Regions from separate parts of the Homo sapiens genome. Here region 2 is linked to region 1. Evidence: fine-mapped expression QTL. A gene starts in region 1. The other region holds a variant in brackets. All regions are shown on one strand. Distances are between the middles of the regions.

Region 1 (8,340 bases):
CAATCTTTATAAAACCAGCTCCCTCTTGACATTTAAGCTAAGATTTGAATGTCATCTCCTTAGAGGACATCCTTAACCACTCAATCTTAACAGAGATGACTGCCTAGACCAGGGTGTTAATTGTCACAGATGGTGAGACGTGGTAGGATTTCGATATGTGTGAGGTAGACCTAACAGATTTGCTGATGGATCAGATATAGAGTAGGAGGAAAGAAGAGGTTCAAAGATGTACTAAAGTTTTGGGCTGAGCAACTAAAAATCCAAAAATGCAGCCGGGAGCGGTGGCTCATGCCTGTAATCCCAGCCTTTGGGAGGCCGAGGCAGGCAGATCACCTGAGGTCAGGAGTACAAAACCAGCCTGACCAACATGGTGAAACCCTGTCTCCAAAAATTAGCTGGTCATGGTGGCGCATGCCTGTAATTCCAGCTACTTGCGAGGCTGAGGCAGGAGAATCACTTGAACCCAGGAGGCGGAGGTTGCAGTGAGCCAAGATCCGCCACTGCACTCCAGCTTGAACGATAAGAGCGAAACTCCATCTCAAAAAAAAGAAAAGAAAAAAAGCCAAAATACTACTTCTTGAGAAAAACTGATGAGCAGGTTTAAAATGACTAAATCTGGCATAAAATTTTAGATATTGTAAGTTGAAGGTATCTACTGGATTAAGCTTGTCCATCCCGCGGCCCAGGATGGCTCTGAATGTGCCCAACACAAATTCGTAAACTTTCTTAAAACATTATAAGTTTTGCGATTTTTTTTTAGCTCATCTGCTATTGTTAGCGTTAGTGTACTCTATGTGTGGCTCAAGACAATTCTTCTTCCAATGTGGCCTAGGGAAGCCAAAAGACTGGACACCTCTATATTGGTCAGGTAGAGATACAAACTGAACCTAAAGTTGGATATACCAGTCTGGATTCAGGGGCAAGGATCCAACGTAGTGATGTAAATTTGGGACTCAATGCATTGATGGTATTTAAAGTCTGAATCGAATCCCTAACAGGACCATCTCCAGCTTCTACTCTTACCACATCCAGCCTCCAAAAAGCACCTAGAATGATTTTTTTTTTTTTTTGAGACAAGATCTCACTGTGTTGCAGTGGTGGGATCATAGCTTACTGCAGCCTCAAACTCCTGGGCTCAAGTGATCTTTCTGCTTCAGCCTCCTGAATAACTCACAACACCCAGCTATTTATTTTTTCTTTTTGTAGAGATGGAGTCTCTCTATGCTGTACAGGTTGATCTCGAACTGGCCTCAGGTGATCCTCCTGTCTCAGCCTCCCAAAGCCCTTGATTACAGGCATGAGCCACCATGCCCTAGAATGATCTTTTTAAGATATAAGTTCAGATCACTCCTCTTTCAAAATTTTAAATTAATATTCTTTCTGTATTTTGTTTGACACATGGTCTCACTTTGTCATCCAGGCTGGAGTGTAGTGACTCAAATATGGCTCATTGTAGCCTCCACCTCCTAGGCTCAAGTGATCCTTCTGCCTCAGCCTCCTGAGTAGCTGGGACCACAGGTGTGCACCATCATACCCAGCAATTTTTTAAATGTTTTGTACAGGTCTCATGTTGCTCAGGCTGGTCTTGAACTCCTGGGTTCAAGCTATATTCCTGCCTCGGCCTCCTAAAATACTGGGATTACAGATATGAACCACCATGTTTGGCATCTCGGCATTAGGAATAAAACCTAACCATGGCCCGTAGAGCTCTCAATCACCCAACACTTGCCTACATCTATGCTCCAGTCACAGTAGCCTTCTTTCCTCTCTTGAAGGGCACCATGCTCTTTCTTGCCTCCTGGCCTTTGAACATGCGATTCCCTGGCCTCTCTAGTTACCTCCTACTGATCCTTCAGCTCTAAGTTTCAAGGTCACCTGCTGAGTCCTCTAACATCTAACCAAAATGCATTTCTCCTCTTAATCTTTCATAACACTTTACTCAACTTGTAAGTATACACCTATACACACACACTTACATGGAGCGAAAGGGAGAAGAGAGAAGATTTGTTTGCTTATTTATTATCTGTCTACCCCAGTAGACAATAAGCTCCATGGGTGCAGGGACATTCTCTGGTTCACTACTCAATCGTGAGGGCCTAGCACAGCACCTGGCAGACTCTGGACACTCAAAAGGTATTTGTTGAATAGAGACAACAGTCTCTTGTGCAATATGCAGTTTGCCTCATTATTCTTAGAATGTTTTCCCCCCTTAAAAAAACAAAAGTTAACCACTTCAATACCAATAAATTAGAGAGCTATTAGGTATACCCCTGCCTTACCAATAAAGCTTCCTCCTACTATTTTACCGGTTTCATTCATTAAGCACTTTCATGCATTCATCACCTGGCATCAGTTACCAAAACCGTGTACCCACTTAAGAAGAAGTATTTAAAGTCATTCAGAGTTCAATGGGCCTTTGGGAATCATCTAATTCTCAGCTGACAGAAGACAGAAAAGTAGGTTAACTGGTCTGCCCCTGTTACAGTTAGCAGCAGAGCTGTCATATGAAACCAAGTTCGATTTTGTTTAGTGCTTTTTCCAAAACCCATTTCTGGCTGGCCGCGGTGGCTCATGCCTGTAATCCTGGCACTTTGGGAGGCCGAGGTGGGAGGCCCACTTGAGGTCAGGGGTTCAAGACCAGCCTAACATGGTGAAGCCCCGTTTCTACTAAAAATACAAAAATTAGCCGGGCATGGTGGGGCATGGGTAATCCCAGCTACTTGGGAGGCTGAGGCAGGAGAATCGATTAAACCTGGGAGACAGAGGTTGCAGTGAGCCGAGACTGAGATCGCGCCATTGCACTCGAGCCTGGGCAACAAGAGCGAAACTCCGTCTCAAAACAAAAAAAGAAAACAAAACCCATTTCTGTCTGGTACTTTTTTTTTGAGACGGAGTTTCGCTCTTTTTGCCCAGGCTGGAGTGCAATGGTGCTATCTCGGCTCACCGCAACCTCCGCCTCCCAGGTTCAAGCGATTCTCCTGCTTCAGCCTCCCAAGTAGCTGGCATTACAGGCATGCGCCACCACCCTGGCTAATTTTGTATTTTTAGTAGACACGGGGTTTCTCCATGTTGGTCAGGCTGGTCTTGAACTCCCGATCTCAGGTGATCCACCCGCCAAGCCTCCCAAAGTGCTGGGATTACAGGCGTGAGCCACCGCGCCCGGCCTCTGTCTGGTACATTTTATCTGAAGCAACAGGAATTGACAGGAAAAATCACTGCTGTCCACAGACCCATACTTGCTCACTTCGGATATGTATTTTTAATGAAGTGCAACAACGTTACCCAGAATCAAAATTAAGCTGTTTCTACGTAAACATTGGGCAGGTAATACAACTGGAAATCAAAAATGTAAGTAGTTCGTTTGTAAGTTAGGGTTCCAGTAGTTAGCAAACTTGCCAAAGTCATCAAAAGTAGTGGTCTTCCTGTTGGGGAACTTTAGCAATAAGTAATTTTATTTTAGTAACAGCAGTAACTACCCCTCCCCCCAAAGAGGAAATTGGAAGACAGCACTGGGTGAAGAAAACAATTTTTTCACGTGTTGCTTTTAGACATAAAACCCTCAACATTTGGAAACTTCAGACTTCCATAATAAGGTTCTAAAGAGATTTCCTTGATCTTGATCCACGGTCCTCAAAGAAACACAAAAAAACTAACCCCCACCTAAGAACTGTTCTTAACCAAACAGGCAGGAACTTCTATGGGCTTTAGCAATCGCTTCTGAACCAGCGCGACAATACTCCTCTGACCTCGCGCAAGAAGGCCACCTTCTCCCTCCCAGAAGAGTCCCGGAGCAGAGCAAGGCACTCAGGGGGCATCTGCGCCGAGGTCGAGGCTCGCTGAAGGCCTTGCTGCCGCCTTGGGGAAAGCCCTCGCAGGCCCACCTGCCCCACCGCCGCCCCTGAGGCCCGGCCTGACTCCCCGCCGGCGCCCCCTCAGCTACCTTTCCGCCGGAAGAAGGACATGGCGGGGCCCGGGTCGGGACGGAGGGTGCGGGGGGACTGGCGCGGGGAGGGCCCGGCTCCCCTCATTCAGCAACCGGCCCGGACTTCCGGGTCCAGAGGGGCCGCTGCACTAGCGCGAAAAGGGACCCTTCTTCCGGGAGTGGGCCCCACCGCCTCCTCGGGATGCCCAGGCAGCTCCAGCCGCCATATTATCAACAAGCCGCCCGCCCGGAGTTCCGGTCCTTCCCCGCGCTAGGCTTCACGGGAGGTCAAGCGCCGGCCCCGCCCCTTTTCCCCATCCCCCTCCCGCGGGTGCAGGGGCGCACGCCCGCATCGCCCACGTGACCCGCGCGTGCTACCCGCGCCTCTTTCCCGGGCCCTGGGTGCCTGGAGCGAGCCACCGTTCCTGCAGCTGTTTTGTGGCGTCTGTCGCCGGCCCCCGGTGGAGCGCTGCAGACCCAGTCTCTGCAAAACTAACTCCCTGGGGCGGGAGCCCTCCCAGCAGCTGGAACGGGGCGGGCCTTAGGTCCCCGGCTTCCGGCCCCTGGGTACCCTTCAAATTGTGCCCTTCTAAAAGGCAGGGTCAACCCTGCCACGCTCCAGCTCGACCCCTCCTGCTCCTCCGTTTGAGTTTTGCTCACAGGCGCTGGCCGGCACGAGCAGCTTCACCCTGCACCCCAGTCCCTGCTTCCTCAGGAGAACCCGCCACGGCCTGCGGGTTCGAGGCGATGCAGAACCCTGATTAGGAAAAGGCACAACCTGCCGCATGCGGAACCAGCAGCTCCCTGGATCATTAGCGAATGAAAAGGGGAAGCGGGCTTATTTCGGAGTGCAGTCCCTGCGAATGCTCAACTTTGTAAGGGACTGCAACATAAAAGCCTCGCCAGTATTTAAAAGCTAGCTCCAGTGAATCATCCTTGCTCAAATGCCATTTTCCTGTGAATCTTCTGACCCTCTACTCCCAAAGCAAAATCAATCAAGCCTCCCTGTCTTTGGTGCTTCTTAACACCCGGCGAGTGCGCTCAGCGGCTGAGGTTGTAACTGCTCCCTGGGGTTGGGGTTGGGGAGGGCAGGAAGGTAATAGTAACTCAATAAATGTTCGCTGGGGTTTTTAAACCAATGAAGTTTATCATGTGACGGATGGGGAAACAGGCCCAGAAGAGACAACTAGCCCAAGATTGTTCAGAATGTTAGAAATACCAAAATTGTTAGAAATAGATAATCGGTGCCACGAAGAAAAGTCAGCACGGAGACAAAAGATCTCCAGCAAGGCAATCTTTACTTTCTGCAGAAAGGGTGCTCAATCGCAGATGGAACGATGTCGAGAGCACACCTGAACAAAGGAAAAGCAAACATATTTATCCCTTACGCATTTGGGTCGTCCTCACTGCTATGTCCTGCATCCATTGGCTGGAGCGGGACCTCACACTCTTAAACTGATAGCCGATTTGCTAATAGCCTAAAACTTTCTAAATAGGTAAGTGCAAGGAAGAACGAAGAAGGAGAGGAAGTTGCTTACCGAAAGGTTTAAGGAAGCAATAACATTTCCAAATAAGGAAGGGGCATAGGCTGTGAACTGGAACGTGCCTGTGAGCATGTCCAACAGTTACATAGGATAGGGCTTAACAAAGAGTTATTAGCACAAAGCAAGGAGGCTTGAAGAAAGTTAGTCTTTAAAATAAACTATTACTTCTAACACTTATGATGTATTCTTTAACAAGAAGGGGAACTTTGAAGAGGAAACTTTTTACTTTCTACAAGAATGTCCAAGTTTAAGACTATAACTAGAACCCGAAATAGGCAAATCCCTTAACCTGCTCTAATAATAATATGGTCTTTTCACTATATTGTTAGAGCAGGTTAAAAGATTTACTTATTTCATTTCTGGCCAGATGCAGTGGCTTATGCCTGTAATCCCAACACTTTGAGAGGCTGAGGCAGTCAGATCACCTGAGGTCAGGAGTTAGACCAGCCTGGCCAAGATGGCGAAACCCCGTCTCTACTAAAAATACAAAAATTAACTGGGCGTCGTGGCATGCCTGTAGTCCCAGCTAATCAGGAGGCTGAGGCAGGAGAATCTCGAACACGGGAGGTGGAGGTTGCAGTGAGCCAAGATCGCGCCACTGCACTCCAGCCTGGGCGAGAGGAAGACTCCTTAAAAAAAAAAAAAAAAAAGATGTGCCTATTTCGTTTCAGAGCATGGCATGTTTGCAAGTGCATGAAAGGTAACCAAAACTGACATGGAAATTTACTATGCGACGGTACTGTGCTAAACCCTCCAGATGAGTAATAGTCCTTGGAGTCAGTCCTGGTATCTGGAAAACTAGGCACTGAAAAATAAAGTCAACTGCTCAAGGTCACACGCTAACTAGGGATGAAGCCTGGATTTCAAGGTGAAGCCTTTCTCCAGTTAAGGACAGCGCGTCCAGGCGCACTGGACGGAAGCAGCGCTGGCAGAGGCTCCGGACGTCCGGAGTGAGCTGGCGCCGAATGGACGCGGTCTGGCCGCTTCCTCCTGGCCTCGGCCGGGCCTGCACCGGGAGGCTGAGCGGCGCCCCACCAGGGATCCGAGATGCCCTCGGGAGCCAATCTGTGTTCTTGGCGGACCACACCCCGCTGTCTGTAGCCAATAAAACCTTGGATCGTGCATCCCACCCCCACCAAAGGGAGATTGGCTGAAGCCAAGGACCCGGGCGCGGTCTACGTGGGATTTCTCTGCAGGCTGAGGGGACAAGTGGCTGTGTCTACCAGGGGCCCAAGTACAGGGCATCAGCAAGAAAGCGCAGCGCCCTTCTCCTGTTCCCTTCCAGCGTGCAGAACCTCGCAGGGGCTATTTTGTATGTGTTGTGTGGTTAGTTGGATGGGGCGGGAGGGACGTAGGGGAGGGGAGAGTGCGAGAAATCCCCTGAATGTCTCTGGCACGGGAGCAGATCCCACAGAGTTGGAGGCGGAGGACTCTAAGTTCCTCTAAATCTCCTCTAAGCCTTCCTCATTCTCTCCAGCTAAGCAGTCTGTGCAGAAGCAGTGCCTCACCTCGACTTCCAGTGTGATTTGCTGCCTTTGAGCCCTGCCCACCAGAAATTCTGAAGTCGCCGTAATCCCCGACAGCTGCATACACCTCAGTCATGATAATGGCCGTCATTATTTATGAAGTACTTATTATGCGCCCTCCTTGTATTAAGTGCTTTACAATTACTAGCTCACTTAATCCATAATTCCTGCCCTTCCCCGAAAAGAGACCCTGTGAGATGGCTGCCATCGCAACCCCCAATTTACAGATGTGGCCCTGAGGATCGGGGTAACTTATGTAGGATCATGAGGCTGTTAAGAGGTAGAGACAGGATTTCAATCGCTGTCAATCAGACTCCAAAGCCATTTGCTTATACCACTTTCTCCTATCTTTCTCTCCACCCACACATTTATCCAGGGTCCCAAAATGGGATGTCTGTCGGGCAGGTATATGGGGGTGAATGATATCTGGCAGTACATATTCTTCGGGTACCTTCTGAATCATCACCCATTAAAATGTTTATATGCTTAGGGAAGCTTGCTGCTAAGAGTATTGTCATTTAATCTTTTGAAATTTGATGATCCACATATGAGTAAAGTTAAAAGAAGAATTTAAAAATAACAAGAATATTACATTAGGCTGAATACGCAGCTGTGGCAAACTAATACCCTGCATTGTATTTCTGAATTAACTTCATAAAGTCATTTTAGTTTACATGTAAGATAAAATTAATTTTTATCAGGAGTTCCTTTAATTATGCTCCTAATTTTTGGGAACCGTCACAGTGTTGTTTTGTTTTATGTGTTTTTTTTCTTTTTTTTTTTTAGACGGAGTTTCGCTCTTGTTGCCCAGGCTGGAGTGCAATGGCGCGATATCGGCTCACTGCAACCTCCACCTCCCGGGTTCAAGTGATTCTCCTGCCACAGCCTCCCGAAGAGCTGGGATTACAGGCATGCACCACCACGACCGGCTAATTTTGTATTTTTAGTAAAGATGGGGTTTCACCATGTTGGTCAGGCTGGTCTTGAACTCCTGACCTCAGGTGATCCGCCTGCCTCAGCCTCCCAAAGTGCTGGGATTATAGGCGGGAGCCACCATGCCCGGCCTCGTCACAGTCTTTTTATACCAGTTGTATTAATTACAACAAATCAGTGAGGTAAAATCAGTAAGTTAATTATCACAAATCCAGTGAATGGTTTAATCTAACATTGTTTAAAAATCAATGAATAGTATTCTACAACAAACATTCTAACAAATATAGTTTATCAAACATTCATAACTTTTTTTTTCGAGACAGATTCTCATCTCACTCTGTCGCCCAGGCCAGACTGCAGTGGTGGGATCTCAGCTCACTGCAACCTCCACCTCCTGGATTCAAGCAATTCTCCT
Region 2 (8,340 bases), 33 kb before region 1:
CGAATAGAGTGTGAAAAGAAATGCAGACTTTACCTCAGAGAAATAAAAGAGGGCTGACTCACAGAAGAGAATGTCAGCCAGGTAAACAGTTCCACTGGTCAGCACTTCAATCTGGTATTTACAGAAATGGTGACTTCGCAGAAACTCACTAAAGTGCCTGCACATGGACAAAAGGGAAAATTTGAGGGAACGACCAAGGAAAGAGTTTAAGTGGGAAAAATATACTCTTTCCATACTGTCCCTATTGTATCTTAAAGGCCTAGGTCAACACTACCTTACTCCCCATGGTGTCATTCCTGATTCCTTTACCTGTATGTAATCTCTCCCACCTTTTTATGACTTTGTAGTTCTCCCCTGACATTTAACACATGCCACTTCATATTACAGTAACCAAACAACATGCCCTATGTCTTTTATTAGGCTGTAACTTCCTTCAAGACTGGCACTATGCCTAACCACGTCTTACACAGAGCACTCTTCTGATAAATGTTAAGTGAAAGAATGAATAGATTTTTTTTAAGGGCACATAGCAGTAATAAATCTAAAAAACCTCTGGAGCCATTTCAACAAATCTATGTGGATTTAGTTATATAGCATCCATTTAGCTTAAAGCCTAACTAACAAATTAGGAGAGCCATCTGAAGACATGCATTATTTAAATAAATAAACCAATTCTAATAGTCATAATCACTACAGACTCAATCACTCCCCAAATTATTTCAGAACTAAAAACAAATTATTTTAACTTAGGAAATATTAACATTGAAAATGAAAATGAAAATTTTAAGAGTTCACATAATTTATATTTAAAAGAAACTGTTAACCAAGATAGAGTATGCTTTATATGATCTTGTAAATATCCAAAATATTTAAATTCTCAAAAATACTTTGTTTTTAGCTGAGTGAAGCCCATTCCTAACAATGAACCCAAATTCCCTAGGATGCACAATGTGAAAATATGAACTAACTTACTCTTGCTCCATTGCACTAAAGACTATGGACTGTGCCAAAACGAAACAGTTGGGATCCACCTGTCCATCTTCTCCACAAATCCTTGCTGCAAAAGAAGTTGTAAATAATTAAATTGCCACTAAATTCAAACTATGTATACACACTTGTGAATCAACTTGGGAGTTAACAGCACAGGCATATAAATTAAGAGGTTTTAAATAGAACTAAAAGAAAATACAGGTAACACTTGATCTTAAAATAGAAAGTCTTTTGAAGTACATATGCAAAAGCAGAAATCAAAAGATTTAACAACATAAAATTTAATTCCTATACATAGAAACCCTCCAAAAACAAAATACAAAGGCAAACAAACAGAAAAAAGATTTGCAGCATGCATGACAGTTAAAAGGTTACTATCATTAAAATACCAAGAGCTCTTATAAACTACTAAGAAATGTTCCAAAAGAAAAATGAGCAAAGGACATGACAATCCACAAAGGAACAAACATAAAATGACCAACGTGAAAAGACATACATACTCACTAGTAATCAAATAGATTAGAATAAGGAGGCACTACACCTTTTATCTAGTAAACTGGCCCAACATTGTTTTTAATAATATGTATACTTGAGCAAGGGCACAAGAAAACTAACACTAGTGTTAGTGGGGATACAAACACCTTTTTCTGAAGGCAATTTGGCAGTTTCTAGCATAACTTTAAAAATGAACATACCCTTTCAATGAGCAATTCTATTTCTGGGATTGTAACTTAAAAAATTATGGATTTGTGAAGTTATCTGTAAAAAAGTTTATTAAAATGTTATTGGTAGAAATTTTAAAACATGAAATGTGCTAAAATAAGGAACTGCTAAAATAAACTGCAGCGAAACAATTAGCTATTTAGCTAGCTGTTAAACATGGCTGGAAAAACCATATAACATGATGCCTAGTCTCACTTTGTGTTCATGACTTTAGTGGGACCTTCATGAAACCAAGGGATCATACTAGTGTCCTGGTCTGTTTACATTCACTTTCCTAGACAATACAAATCTGTGATACTGTGAAATATGTTATTTAGTCTTTGCCCAGTTTTTTTTTTTTCCTTTTTCTTCTGAGACAAGGTCTCACTTTGTCACCCAAGCCGGAGTCAGTGGCACGATCATGGCTCACTGCTGCCTTCAACTCCAGGGCTCAGTGATCCTCAGCCTTCTGAGTAGCTGAGACTACAGACAAGAGCTATTACGCCTGGCCAATTTTTAAATTTTTTGTAAGGGGGTCTCACTATGTTGACCAGGCTGGTTTTGATCTCATGGCCTGAAACGATCCTCCTGCCTCAGCCTCCCAAAGTGCTGGGATTACAGGCCTGAGACATTGCAACTGGCCTTTAGCCAGTTTCTTAGCATACAGCGCCTAAAATTCATGGAATCTCTGGATTCTTTTGAAGGCTAATGAGATGACTTGTGGCTGTGGCCTCTAAAGAGCTTTAGGATGAGGGCTAATCACCAGAAAGACCAAGGCAGAATTACACGTTTGGGACTTTCAGCCCTACCCACCAACCTCCCGGGATGAGGGGGCTGAAGGTTGAGCTGATCACCAATAGCCAATGATCAATCATGCCTATATAATGAAGTCTCCACAAAAAACCCAAAAGGACAGAATGGGGAGGGGGGCTTCTGAATAGCTAAATCTGTAGAGGTTCTTGGAGGGTGGCATGACCTGGAGAGTGCATGGAAGCTCTGTGCCCCTCTCCCATACCTTGCCCATGCATCTCTTCCATCTGCCTGTTCAATCTGTATCCTTTGTAATATCCTTTATAATAAATGGGTAAATATATGTAAAGCATTTCCCTGAGTTCTGAGAGCTGCTCTAGCAAATTTATTGAACCCAAGGAGGGGACTGTGGGAACTCCAATTTATAGAAGGTCAGTCAGAAGCACAGGCCACAACTTGTACTTGAGACTGGCATCTGAAGTGGAGGCAGTCTTGTGGGACAGAGTCCTCAATCTGTGGGATCTGATGCTATCTCCAGGTAAACAGTGTGAGAACTGAACTGACTTAGAGGACACCCAGTTGGTGTTCACTGAACAATCATCTGCAGAATTGGTAGCTGACAGGGAAAAAACCCCACACAACTAGAGTCATGGAAGGGTTCTGTTTTGTGAGAGTTCAGAAGGAGAAACTGAGTTTTTTTTTTTTCTACAGTACATCTCCTTTCTCAAATATTTAACACCTCTTCTATTCTCTTTGCTGAGGACTTTGCTTCCTGCTTCCTTGAGAATATAGAAGCAATCAGAAAATTATTTCCATCATCTCTCACATCTTTCAACTCACCTGCATCTCTACCCGTGTACTGCATTCTTTCCTGTGACTCTAGATAAATTGTCCTTGCTCCCATCTAAGCAATCTTCTATGTGAGCACTGGAATTCATCCCTTCTGCCTCCAGACTTCTTTCCTGTAACAACTGTCCCCTCTCCTACATCAACTTCTCCTTCACTACTGCCTCATTCCTATCAGCTGTGTGGACTGCATGTTTATATATATACCTGTTTGTATGCTATAACACACTTTATATGCTTATATATATGCCTGTAACCTCAGCACTTTGGGAGGCCAAGGTGAGTAGATCATGAGGTCAGGAGATGGAGACCATCCTGGCCAACACGGTGAAACCCCGTTTCTACTAAAATACAAAAAAAAAAATTAGCCAGGCGTGGTGGCGAGCGCCTGTAGTCCCAGCTACTTGGGAGGCTGAGGCAGGGGAATCGCTTGAACCCAGGAGGCGGAGGTTGCCGTGAGCCAAGATCACGCCACTGCACTCCAGCCTGGCGAGAGTGAGACTCCGTCTCAAAAACAAACAAACAAACAAACAAAAAATGCAGTCATGCTTTATTCCTTTTTTTCCCTCTCATACCACTCACTTCCAAACCATCAGCAAATTCTGTCAGCTGTACCTTCAAAGTTTTTAAAAATTCTACCACTTCAAACATTTGTGGAAGATGAAGGAGGTAGTGCAAGTATAGATTCTGGATCACTCTAAATCCTCACATAAAAACAGTAATTAGTTAGCAACACCAAAAATCCAAGGATTACATTTAAAACAAGACTATGCAAAGTGGGTACACAGTAAGAGCTAAAGTGAAGGCTCCTTTGAACAAAACTCACTTGAAGGACAGCTATATTAAAATAGTCCAACTGCAAGAGGAGACAAATAATTTGGACAGGATTAAGAATGGGGCTCAAGGAGGAAAAATGACTTGCCTAAAGCCACACAGGTAATTAACATCCTAAAATATATAATGATAGACACTGGGATAGAGGTTTTCTCAAATTCTTTGATCACAAAATGTTATCAACTTGATCCTTCAGAAGACTTTTCCTTCATGGGATTACATCATCATTAATTTGATTAAGCTTAAGTAAAAGAAAGAGAGTTGCAGTGTGGTTTCATTTTAAGTGTTTTATTTGACTTGAAACT[G/C]CTTCCTTTTTATCCACACGCCAGTCAGGCTATTAACTGGTACAGACTCCCCTCAAAAAAAAATCACTAGCCAACCAATTCTTCAAACAGGCAAACTCTAATCAGTCAGAACATCCCTGTTGTATTACTAGGAAAAGCTGGTCTAGGGATGATGATAGTAGCAAATTCCCACATAAAAATAGAGCAACAACACAGAAAACCTCAAATCTCATGACAACATCTGTCAGCAAAACTCAGTGAAACAGTACCCCTTAAATACAAGCAGATAGGGATAAGCCACCAACAGCCACCAGGCCTATGTTATAGCCGTTATAGGTATCTGTGTGGGAGAAAGAAAAGGAAAATGGAGCCAACATGACATGGACCCCAGAATAGCTAACTGGAAGGTACAGTGGGCCAATTTAAGAAACACAGCTGAGACTAACAGGGGTCTTGCTGTCCCCAGCAGTGAGTGAGTGCAAAGCACCCACACTAAGGATTAAAGAAGCCCAACATCGGGACAGATCTGCTAAAAGTGCAAGAACATGTCTTATTTCATAAATCACAAATACTAACTTTTTTGAAGAATAAAAATACATAATATTAGGACTTATGAGAATGTAATATTTATTGAATGAATAAATAACCTCTTTTATCTGTGAATATACGTTCACCTAAGGTCTTCCTGATAAAACACAGTAAAAGCTTTCAAACTATTTTGCTATAACCTATAAGAAATATATTTGTTGAATCAGCATACACATACATACATGTATATATAATGAAAACATTTTTCTGAAATGTTTGTCCTTACTACTCTGAGATACTTTGATTTTTTTATTCTAGTATATATATATATACACACACTAATATGTATATTATATATTAGTATATATACTAATATATAATATATACTATATATGCATATATACTAATACATATATTTTATATATATATATATTTTATATATATATATATTATATATATATATATATATATATATATATATATATATATTTTTTTTTTTTTTTTTTTTTTTTGGCAGGGGGTGAGGGCATAAGAGAAGGCTGGTCCCAACCTACAGTATGAAAAACACTGCCACAGCACAGCAGTTAAGGTATGTGAGGGTCTAGTTTCAAATCCTGACTCTGCCATATCTGAGCTGTTACCCTGGACAAAGCACTTAACTTCTCTGTGCTTCAGTTTCTTCATCTATAAAATAACTGTATTTATCCCACAAAGTTCTTTAGAAGTTAAAATGAGTCTATCCATAAAAAGTGCTTGGAATATTGTCTGGGACACAGTGAGTGTTTAATAAATGTGTACTATTTATTGATCTTGCTGTCATTGTTATTCAGGTTAAAGCCTAAGAATTTGGGTCCAACATATAAGAAAAACTTTTTTTTTTTTTTTTTTTTTAAGGTTAGCAAATTGTCTTTATTCAGAAGAATAAAGTTACGTGAAACTGGGACTGGACATGAGGCTGCCCTCCTCCTTGCACCTCCAGCTGTGCCAAATGACACAGAAATGACACTGTGTGTGGCACAATCAACTGGCAAAAAAAGGCAAGTCACAGGCCATGTGATGGCTCTGGCTAATGCAGGTAGACATCCAGGGTGCCCAGGGACGTCAGGCCCACTGAGAAGTGGGATGAAGCCCTGAGACGGAGAGGCCACCACTGAGACACCTGTCTGGCCATCCAGTTGCCCACTGGTCGTGAGACTCTTGGGCTGCAGCCCTGATGCCTAGAGACTTTGGTACCGGCTTTTAGCCTCACTGGACTTCCAACCCCAGAAGTTTCTGTCCCGCCCACTTCGTGCACTGGTGCGGGGCTGCCGGCCAGTCCATCCGGTGGTCTGTGCCGGTTAGCGTAGCCGCCCGCCGGCCCGGCTGCTCAGCAGCGGGCAGGCCTGAGCACCCGCTACACTGCAGCCCATCTGGCCCAGGCAAAGACCCTCGCACCGAATGCAGCCGAGAAACTTTTAAAGTGAGCTATAATCCGATATAAAAAATACTCAGAAAACAAATTAGGAAGGGAACTGCTAAATTCCATGTTAAGAAAAAATTATCTTAGTCAATAACGAAAATTGTCAGTTCTGTGCATTTTTTGTCATTTTTTTTTTGCCATAGTTTCAAGCACTGCTTACCTATGATGTCATTTCTCATTGCTTCTGTAATTGGTATTGGTTTAGCAGCATCTGGAGATATATATTTGGTAAAAGTATTCACTGCATCTTGTTCTATACCTGCAAGGGAAGAAGAGAACTTCAAAAACCAAAAAGCAACTTGGACTCCAGTAATGAATTATATTCATGAATAGCAGGGCTTAGATCACTGTGAGTTCCTATTGCAAAATAAACTTCCATCACAAAGGTGCTTTTTCATTGTTTGGTTTGTGGAAGAGGAGAGTTACATGGGGGTGTTCAAAGCTATGGAAAATGCATATGATGAAAAAACTATGCATGAATTTCAAAGTACTTTTACACCAAAATAAACTCATATTAACCTGTTATAACGTATCTGAACAGGATCTACTCTGAGGCACTAAGAAGGAGAAAACATCAGTTTGAAGACAGCCCCTATTGGAGCAACATGAATTCTGCTAAAATGGAAGAATAAACATCAAATTTATGGTGAAGCTTGTGTGGATGAAAGATAAAATTATTGATGCTTTACCAAAAGTTTATGGGGACAATGCCTCAAAGGACAGAGTGAGACTCCGTCTCAAAAAAAAAAAAAAAGTCAAGTATTAATAATTATGACAGAAACCACCAAAGGCGGGTGTTAAAGTGTTATTTTCCTAATGTGCTTGCTAAAGGGAAAACAGCAAATTAATATAGAGAATATCATCCGTTGATTTGATATGAAATCCTAATAAGTATGTCAAGATGAAATAAGCACACTCTTCTGTCTCTCCCATGGAATGCAACTCAAAACAATGGACAAATGCATCCAAGGACTTGGAAGCAGGTGGACTGAGAAAAGTAATCAGAACTTGCAGTACCTCCGTACTCCTGACAAGTTTGTCCAGCACCTCCTGGCCTGGACTCAAAAGCTGAAACTGCACACCAGATGCACAAAGAAGAAGTTCCAAGACAGGCCCTCTATTTCTGGTCTGAGGAACAGGAAAGGGGGCTCTCACGGATCAAAGAGAGTGGAGGAAATCCCCTGGGTTGTTTTGTTTTGTTCCTTTCTCTCCTTCGACTCCCAGGCAGCATCAGAGCAGCCACAGCAGCAATGACAGCAGCTCCAAGAATCCTACTTTCTGACAAGAGAAACTGCAGTCCCAAGAAGAAGAAGTCGTGGCCACAGAGGTTGACATAGCTACAGGAAGTGTGCTGAAGTATAGGGAATCTAAAGCCCTGACTTTCTAGCCAGACAACAGGAAAGGGATAAAGGGAGGTTCTTAGAAGGCAGAACGTGTCAGGGACATCACAGAAAAGAAGGAGCCCATGAAAACGTCGAGTTGTATGTGCACTCCCGGGGCCACTCGTGAGCTGGGTGTGCATGGCCCTGCTTCTAAAAGTGTACAAAGGCTTTGGGACCTGACCATTGGCCAGGTCCCAGACTGGACACAGAAAGGCACATAAGCAGATAAGATACAAAACTGAACTGATGATGGAACCAGAGCCGACAGAATGCTGCTTAGAATTTGTGGACTGAACCTAACTAGGTCAACTGCTTGTTAAAGCAAAAACTTCAATATTTTCCACAGGATTTAAACAAGATTCAGAATCATGTAACGTAAGTCAAACTGTCCAAGATACAATCCAAAATTAATTGTCATATAAAGAACCAGAAAATCCCATTATCTCACAAGAGAAAAGACAATCAAGAGGACACATATGCTGGGATGATAAAACAAATTTTAAGTAGCTACTAAAACCATGCTCTAAGAAATAAGATCACTCCTGAAACAAATAAGAGTTTCAGG

The links.
Region 2: its variant is fine-mapped to the expression of AKAP10 in whole blood (TOPMed, PIP above 0.99).

Annotation. Positions count from the first base shown.
Region 1 is chr17:19,973,652-19,981,991 of GRCh38, forward strand. It overlaps AKAP10 (A-kinase anchoring protein 10), which reads right to left and starts at 4,177. Exons shown (of 15, transcript NM_007202.4): 1 at 3,941-4,177. The coding sequence starts at 4,028. RefSeq lists a silencer at 3,885-4,074 and an enhancer at 4,547-5,260.
Region 2 is chr17:19,940,854-19,949,193 of GRCh38, forward strand. AKAP10 (A-kinase anchoring protein 10) reads right to left here. Exons shown (of 15, transcript NM_007202.4): 5 at 6,554-6,652; 6 at 973-1,057; 7 at 34-157. Among named protein-coding and RNA genes, the nearest start is that of AKAP10, 33 kb to the right of the region's middle. The variant G/C (reference allele first, on the strand shown) is at 4,428.